Linked DNA regions of Homo sapiens. The protein of the gene in region 1 purifies or fractionates together with the protein of each later gene. This does not show direct contact. Each region holds a gene or a part of one and is shown in the gene's direction. Other genes may lie near its edges.

Evidence for each region.
Region 2: the proteins of SLC36A4 (region 1) and SPPL2A fractionate together in Homo sapiens (co-fractionation; one large-scale study listed by BioGRID). This does not show direct contact.

What each region holds. Positions count from the first base shown.
Region 1 is NC_000011.10:93,145,870-93,149,696, reverse strand, and holds part of SLC36A4 (neutral amino acid uniporter 4), read left to right. Parts: intron 1-852; coding exon 853-1,160; 3' UTR 1,161-3,827.
Region 2 is NC_000015.10:50,737,902-50,741,728, reverse strand, and holds part of SPPL2A (signal peptide peptidase-like 2A isoform 1 precursor), read left to right. Parts: intron 1-1,900; coding exon 1,901-2,049; intron 2,050-3,827. UniProt on the Homo sapiens protein: Intramembrane-cleaving aspartic protease (I-CLiP) that cleaves type II membrane signal peptides in the hydrophobic plane of the membrane. Functions in FASLG, ITM2B and TNF processing.

The sequences.
Region 1 (3,827 bases):
ACTGTCCTTGACTTTCTTTGTCTTTCTTGACCTTCACACTTTCGAAATGTCAGTAATTGTGTAGAATTTCTTTCAATTTGAATTTTTCTGATGCTTTCTCATGATTAGGTTGAAGTTAAGCATTTTTAACAAGAATCCCACAGAAGTGATGCTGTGCACTTCTCAGTGTATCACATCATAGTATCAGTGTCTTATTGGTGATGTTAATTTTGTTTACTTGGCTAAGGTGGTCTGTTGACTTATTTCTCCACTGTAAAGCTACTAGTTCTCCTTTTATAATTAATAAGTATCTTGAAGGAAGATATTTTGAAACTCTGATCTCATCCAGTTTTTGCCCACTAATTTCAGCATTCATCAGTGACTCTTCCTATCCTGTGATTATTGTGGTATTTGCTTAATGCTTTTCTGTTTCCATTGTTCCTTCTATTTTGATTAATTGGAATTCTACTTTAAGGAATAGCTATCTCTTCTCTCTCATTTATTTATGTCCCACCACTCTATGTCTTGTGCGTTATTGAGCTGTATGGGCAGACAAAGTAATGCAAATGCTCTGGAAATAAACTATCAAAACTTCTTTGCCCAGAATTTTAAAGCAAAAAATTAAAAGTTGTTTACATAAGAAACTGTTGACAAGTGTAAGTCTAGGACATGTCACTCACTATTTTGGTCTTTCTGTCTCTCTCTAGCTTAGAACAAAATATGGCAGATTTTTTTCACAAGCAATAGTTTAGTAGTTCAACTTTCATTAATTATTTCTAGTAATTACTTTCAGTATTGAAAATACTTACTGTTAATATTCATGTAAGTAACAAACATTTAAATAAGAAAAATAAATGTATTTTCATTTTCTAGGTGCCGGAGCAATTCTTATTCCTCGTTTAGACATTGTGATTTCCTTCGTTGGAGCTGTGAGCAGCAGCACATTGGCCCTAATCCTGCCACCTTTGGTTGAAATTCTTACATTTTCGAAGGAACATTATAATATATGGATGGTCCTGAAAAATATTTCTATAGCATTCACTGGAGTTGTTGGCTTCTTATTAGGTACATATATAACTGTTGAAGAAATTATTTATCCTACTCCCAAAGTTGTAGCTGGCACTCCACAGAGTCCTTTTCTAAATTTGAATTCAACATGCTTAACATCTGGTTTGAAATAGTAAAAGCAGAATCATGAGTCTTCTATTTTTGTCCCATTTCTGAAAATTATCAAGATAACTAGTAAAATACATTGCTATATACATAAAAATGGTAACAAACTCTGTTTTCTTTGGCACGATATTAATATTTTGGAAGTAATCATAACTCTTTACCAGTAGTGGTAAACCTATGAAAAATCCTTGCTTTTAAGTGTTAGCAATAGTTCAAAAAATTAAGTTCTGAAAATTGAAAAAATTAAAATGTAAAAAAATTAAAGAATAAAAATACTTCTATTATTCTTTTATCTCAGTAAGAAATACCTTAACCAAGTTATCTCTCTTTTATGCTACTCTTTTGCCACTCACTTGAGAACAGAATAGGATTTCAACAATAAGAGAATAAAATAAGAACATGTATAACAAAAAGCTCTCTCCAGATCATCCCTGTGAATGCCAAAGTAAACTTTATGTACAGTGTAAAAAAAAAAAATCTCAGTTATGTTTTTATTAGCCAAATTCTAATGATTGGCTCCTGGAAGTATAGAAAACTCCCATTAACATAATATAAGCATCAGAAAATTGCAAACACTAGAATTAATTTTACACTCTAATGGTAGTTGATCTTCATAGTCAAGAGGCACTGTTCAAGATCATGACTTAGTGTTTCAATGAAATTTGAAAAGGGACTTTAAAACTTATCCAGTGCAACTCCCTTGTTTTTCGTCAGAGGAAAAGGAGGCCTAGAAAGGTTAAGTAACTTGGTCGAGACCACTCAGCCTTGAGATCAAGAAAACCTAATCTTCTGACTCCCAGGCCAGGATGTTTTATTTCTCACATCATGTCCAAGAAAAAGAATAAATTATGTTCAGCTTAATTTTAGTGTTGAATCTATTTGATTATATTTTAATACTTTGAAAATGAATGTGTGATTTTTAATAGTATATGTGACCTGAGCAGAAAATCAGGGAACTCCAAGAAGCCTACACTGTGGCCATATAAACCTCAGCAAGAGAAAGAAGCTATGTTCTTTTAAAACAGAATAGAGACCGCTTGCTGGTGAAACTCCTGGCTAGTAAGATGTGTGTCTAGCTATACTATTTGTGGCTTGAGCTTTTTTAATTATTACCTTCCTTTCCTGAGTTTTGTAGGCACCACATTCCTGAATGGCAGAAAATAGACACCTCAGAAAACGGAGGATTTGTGGACTCTTTCCAGCCCTGTGGCTTTTCTTATCACAGCCTTTTATTTATTATGAGCAGAATAAAAGAATCAGCTAGGTGTGGTGGTCTGTGCTTATAATCCCAGCTACTCTGGAGGATAAGTTGGGAGGATCACTTGAGAGGCCAGGAGCTTGAGACCAGCCTGGGCAGCATAGTGAGACCTCGACTCTATAAAACATAAAAATTTAAAAAAAAATTAGCCTGATGTGGCGTGTACCTGTAGTCCCAGCTACTGAGGAGGCTGAAGCAGGAGGATCCCTCGAGCACAAAAGTTTCAGGCTGTGGTAAGCTATGACTGTGCCACTGCACACCAGCCTGAGTTACAGAGGGAGATCCCAACTCTTAAAAACTAAAACAACAATAAATATATACAAGAATCATAACATAAAGGGATTCATGCTTAGAAAAAATCCATAAACTCCCTTCTAAATATTGAGACACTCCAGGCTTCTTTCAGACAAATAACTTCTAATTATTCCATATTTTTCAAGTTATTAACCAAGATAAAGAATCTCTCAGTTAGTGGGGAAAATGAAAATTATTAAGAATAGAATTGTCTTCTGACTTTAAAAACAATTTAGACTTTAAAACATGAACTGTTTACTCAGGCTGGTGATACTCTAGTTTGTTAGTATACCATACTTGAAGATATCATCAAGATCACTATAGTTGTATATATTCTCTATTTTTATATGTAAATGTTAACTTAGTTCAAGTATTTTTTGCTTGTATCGTTAACTGATCATCAAATACAATCCTAAAGATATATCAGAAGCTTTATTTTGGTACAAAGTCATAAGAATCAAAACTTTTTTAACCATTCACATTAGGTATCAACAGTAATTGTTTGAGATACTTTTATATCAATTCTGTTACACTGAGCCTTTAGTCATACTAAGAGAATGCAGAAGAAGTTATAGGAAAACGAATCTTCACTGAAACTAGTATTATATAATCTTGAATTAGATGTTTAAAAAACTTTATAGCTTGATATAAAATGAGTTGAAAATTATTATTTAATAGGAAGCAGCATTAGATTTTTGTCACCTGTTTTCAGATAATATTTCTAGTCTATGTATGTTATTTAATTTTTACACTTTGGCCCATTGTTTATTTTCCTTAAGGAATTCATCAAATGCAATGAAATTTGAATAAAATTGATCATAGCAATAAATAATTTTTAAATTCAGCACAAACTCATCTTGAGTATATTATCAATCAGGCTTCCTTTAGCAATAAGAATGGTGAATCAACATCCAGTACTAAATTCAATAAATGATGAATACTTTAAATACAAGAAAAAGTTGAATTGCAGAAAAGAAGAGGGGCTAAAAAGGAAGAAAGTTTTAATTCTCAACAAGAAACACTATTTAGATGGAAAGCTTAAATGTATTCTTATTAAGGGTATTTGATGATGCATTTTATTTGCAAAAATAACCAGTGGGTAATTTTTTCTCTGAAAATTTAG
Region 2 (3,827 bases), on another chromosome or scaffold:
TCCTAAAGTTCTGGGATCACAAGTGTGAGCCACCACACCCAGCAGAATTGTAATATTTTAATGTGATATAAATCTAGTACACTGTATGCTTTCCTTCAAGAAATTGCCTGTGCTTTTTAGTTTAATGACTATGAATAGATATTGAATTATTATGGCTCATATGTATACTATGACAAAAATTGCTTTAAATGTATTTCTGTAGTGACAGATATCATAATTAGCACCTTTTTACACTCAGGTACCACATTTGTAGAAATTTATTTAATACCCTGTCATTCAGCTCTGGAGTTTCAGGGGGAGGTGCTAGCATGTCTCCATCAACTCTCTCCCTCCTCTTTTCCCAGGCAATCTACTCTTTTTTTTTTTTTTATTTTTAAAATTAATTTTTAAAAATATATTAAAATAAATAAACTTTTTTAACCTAAATTTTATATTGAGCCCAGACCTAACAAGCAGGGCCAGGATTTGCCCAGGAGGGAGCAGAGTTTAGAACAGAGTTGTTGAAAAGTATTCAGAAGTAGTATTAATAATGTGTCATAGGTTGCATATAACTAGGAGGAGACAGTAGTAAGGTCGACAAGAGAGATTGCCCAACAAACAACAGTTGCAGTTCTTTTCCTCCTCGACTTCTGTCTCTATTATTAGCTCTGTGGCCTAGCAAGGGTTGATACAATATTTCGTTATCTTAAATAAAGGTAGGACAAAGTTATGCCTTGAATTTCTTTTGAGTCCTTTATAATACATTGATGAGCATAGACTAGGCATATAGTAAATGCTAAGTTGATTGAGAGGAGAATTTAGCGTTTACATTTAAGAGAAGCGGCTGGGTGCGGTGGCTCACACCTGTAATCCCAGCATTTTGGGAGGCTGAGGTGGGTGGTTTGCCTGAGCTCAGTTCGAGACCAGCCAGGGCAACATGGTGAAACCCCGTCTCTACTAAAATACAAAAAATTAGCCGGGCCTAACCGCATGTGCCTGTAGTCCCAGCTACTTGGGAGGCTGAGGCAGGAGAATTGCTTGAACCTGGGAGGCAGAGGTTTCAGTGAGCAGAGATCGCGCCACTGCACTCCAGCCTCGGCAACAGAGCAAGACTCTGTCTCAAAAAACAGAGAAGCTAATTTTTAGAAGTACTTTACTATCTGTAAGTTGATAATAGTAAGTTTGTAAGAAGCATTGGTTTTAGTTTGAAATTTATTATGTCAATATAATTTTCAAATTAGGTAATATAAACATCCACAAGTATTAATTTGTTTATATAATAGATGTCATCTCTTTTTTTTTTCTTTTTTTTTTTTTTTTTTGAGACGGAGTTTCGCTCTTGTTGCCCAGGCTGGAGTGCAATGGCACGATCTCAGGTCACCACAACCTCCGCCTCCCGGGTTCAAGCAATCCTCCCGCCTCAGCCTCCCAAGTAGCTGAGATTACAGGCACACACCACCACACCCGGCTAATTTTTGTATTTTTAGTAGAGACAGAGTTTCACCATGTTGGTTAGGCTGGTCTCGAACTCCTGACCTCATGATCCGCCCGCCTCAGCCTCCCAAAGTGCTGGGATTACAGGCATGAGCCATCATGCTCGGCCAACGTCATCTCTTTCAACAATTTTGCCTGCAGAAAAAAATGTTTCAAAAGTTAGTGGTTGAAAACAGATCATCTCTGGAGAGTAGCATTTAAGAGGTTTTTACTTTCTAGATTAAATATTTCTTTGTAGGGTACAGTTTTTAAAAAGTACATTACTTGCTATAACAAGATAGCTTAGAAAAATAATAAAATAAAAATATTTTAATAAATAAAAATACATTGTTTTCTTCAGAAACAGATTTAAATTGGTGTTAGAGATAAATTTTTTAAATAACTGTACTTGGCTAAGATTTGCTAAAGTTCCTGTGTGTTTGTACAGGGAAAACTTGAAAGCAGTGACAACTGAAGATAGAGAAATGAGGAAAAAGAAGGAAGAATATTTAACTTTTAGTCCTCTTACAGTTGTAATATTTGTGGTCATCTGCTGTGTTATGATGGTCTTACTTTATTTCTTCTACAAATGGTTGGGTAAGAAGTCATATTTTATGTTTGCTACTGTTAACATACATTCTTTTCACTGACTATTACTAGATTTATCTTTTCCTTTAAGCCATTCTACCTGGAAAACGTATGTGAATAATTTGGTTAATATTAATTTTTTTTTAATTATCAGAGTGTTAGGTCTCTGTTACTCTGAGATAAAAATATTCAGATTAAAAATACAATATGTGCCAGGAGCAGTGACTCACACCTGTAATCCCAGCACTTTGGGAGGCCAAAGTGGACAGATCACCTGAGGTTGGGAGTTTGAGACCAGCCTGACCAACATGGAGAAACTCCATCTATACTGAAAATACAGAAATTAGCTGGGTGTGGTGGCACGTGCCTGTAATCCCAACTACTTGAGAGGCTGAGTCAGGAGAATCGCTCGAACCTGGGAGGTGGAGTTTGCAGTGAGCCGACATTGCGCCATTGCACTCCAGCCTGGGCAACAAGAGCGAAACTCCGTCTTAAAAAAAAAAAAAAAAAAAAAAAAAGTACGTTATGTTTTCAGATAAGAACACTTCTTCATGGATGACTTGAAATAATTGCCATGGTCCCTAAGTTTTCCTCTCTGTAGATGAATGATATAGCTCAGTATCTAAGCAGTGGATTAAGGAGTTCTTGGTGGCTATATTTAGTTACATGAAATAGAAGATTATTCAAATTACTGATGTATTGCCTCTACTTACTCCCAAGTGTAGTTTATCTTTTGTCAATTTGCAAATCAAGATGTTTTATTGCTTGAATTTTATGTTACTTATATAAACAGTTAGGATCATATATCTGAAGACACACAGGTACTTCCCTGTGGTCTAGAAAGTAACTAGTTCTTTTTTTCCTTGAAGAAAGTGGGAGCAGGAACTATAATGGCTTGTCCATCTCCTGAACAGTCTTATTAATGGCTTAATAGAATGGAAATTTGCCATCCCTGGACAGTATACAGCACAAAGAGAAGGGAGACCAGGGTAAAAGGAGTGTACCTGATAAGAACTAGCAAAAAGCCCTTTTAAGAACCACCAAAGGCTACCATGCTTATGTGTATAGCATTAGCATAAATTTCTGGACTAGAAAACTAGGGCCTAGGATTTGTTTCATTCAGCTTTTTTTTTTTTTTTGGAAACAGAGTCTTGCTCTGTCGCCCAGGCTGGAGTGCAGTGGCGCAGTCTTGGCTCACTGCAACCTCCACCTCCCAGGTTCAAGTGAGTCTCCTGCCTCAGTCTCCTGAGTAGCTGGGATTACAGGTGTGCGCCACTGTGCCCGACTAATTTTTGTATTGTTAGTACAGACGGGATTTCACTATGTTGACCAGGCTGGTCTCGAACTCCTGACCTCAAGTGATCCACCTGCCTTGGCCTCCCAAAGTGCTAGGATTACAGGCGTGAGTTACCGCACCCAGCCTCATTCAGTTTTTGTTCAGTTTCTCTTGTCCTGTGACAGCAGTTTAAAAACTAGACCTATGATATCTTTTTTTTTGAGACAGTCTTGCTCTGCTCTGCTCTGTCACCCAGGCTGGAGTGCAGTGGCACAATCTGGGTTCACTGCAACCTCTGCCTCTCGCATTCAAGCGATTCTCCTGCCTCAGCCTCCCAAGTAGCTGGGACTACAGGCACATCCCACCATGCCCAGCTAATATTTGTACTTTTATTATTTGTATTTATTTATTTATTTGAGATGGAGCGATTCTCTTGCCTCAGCTTCCCAAGTAGTTGGGATTACAGGCATCTGGCACCACCCCCAGCTAATTTTTGTATTTTTAGTAGAAA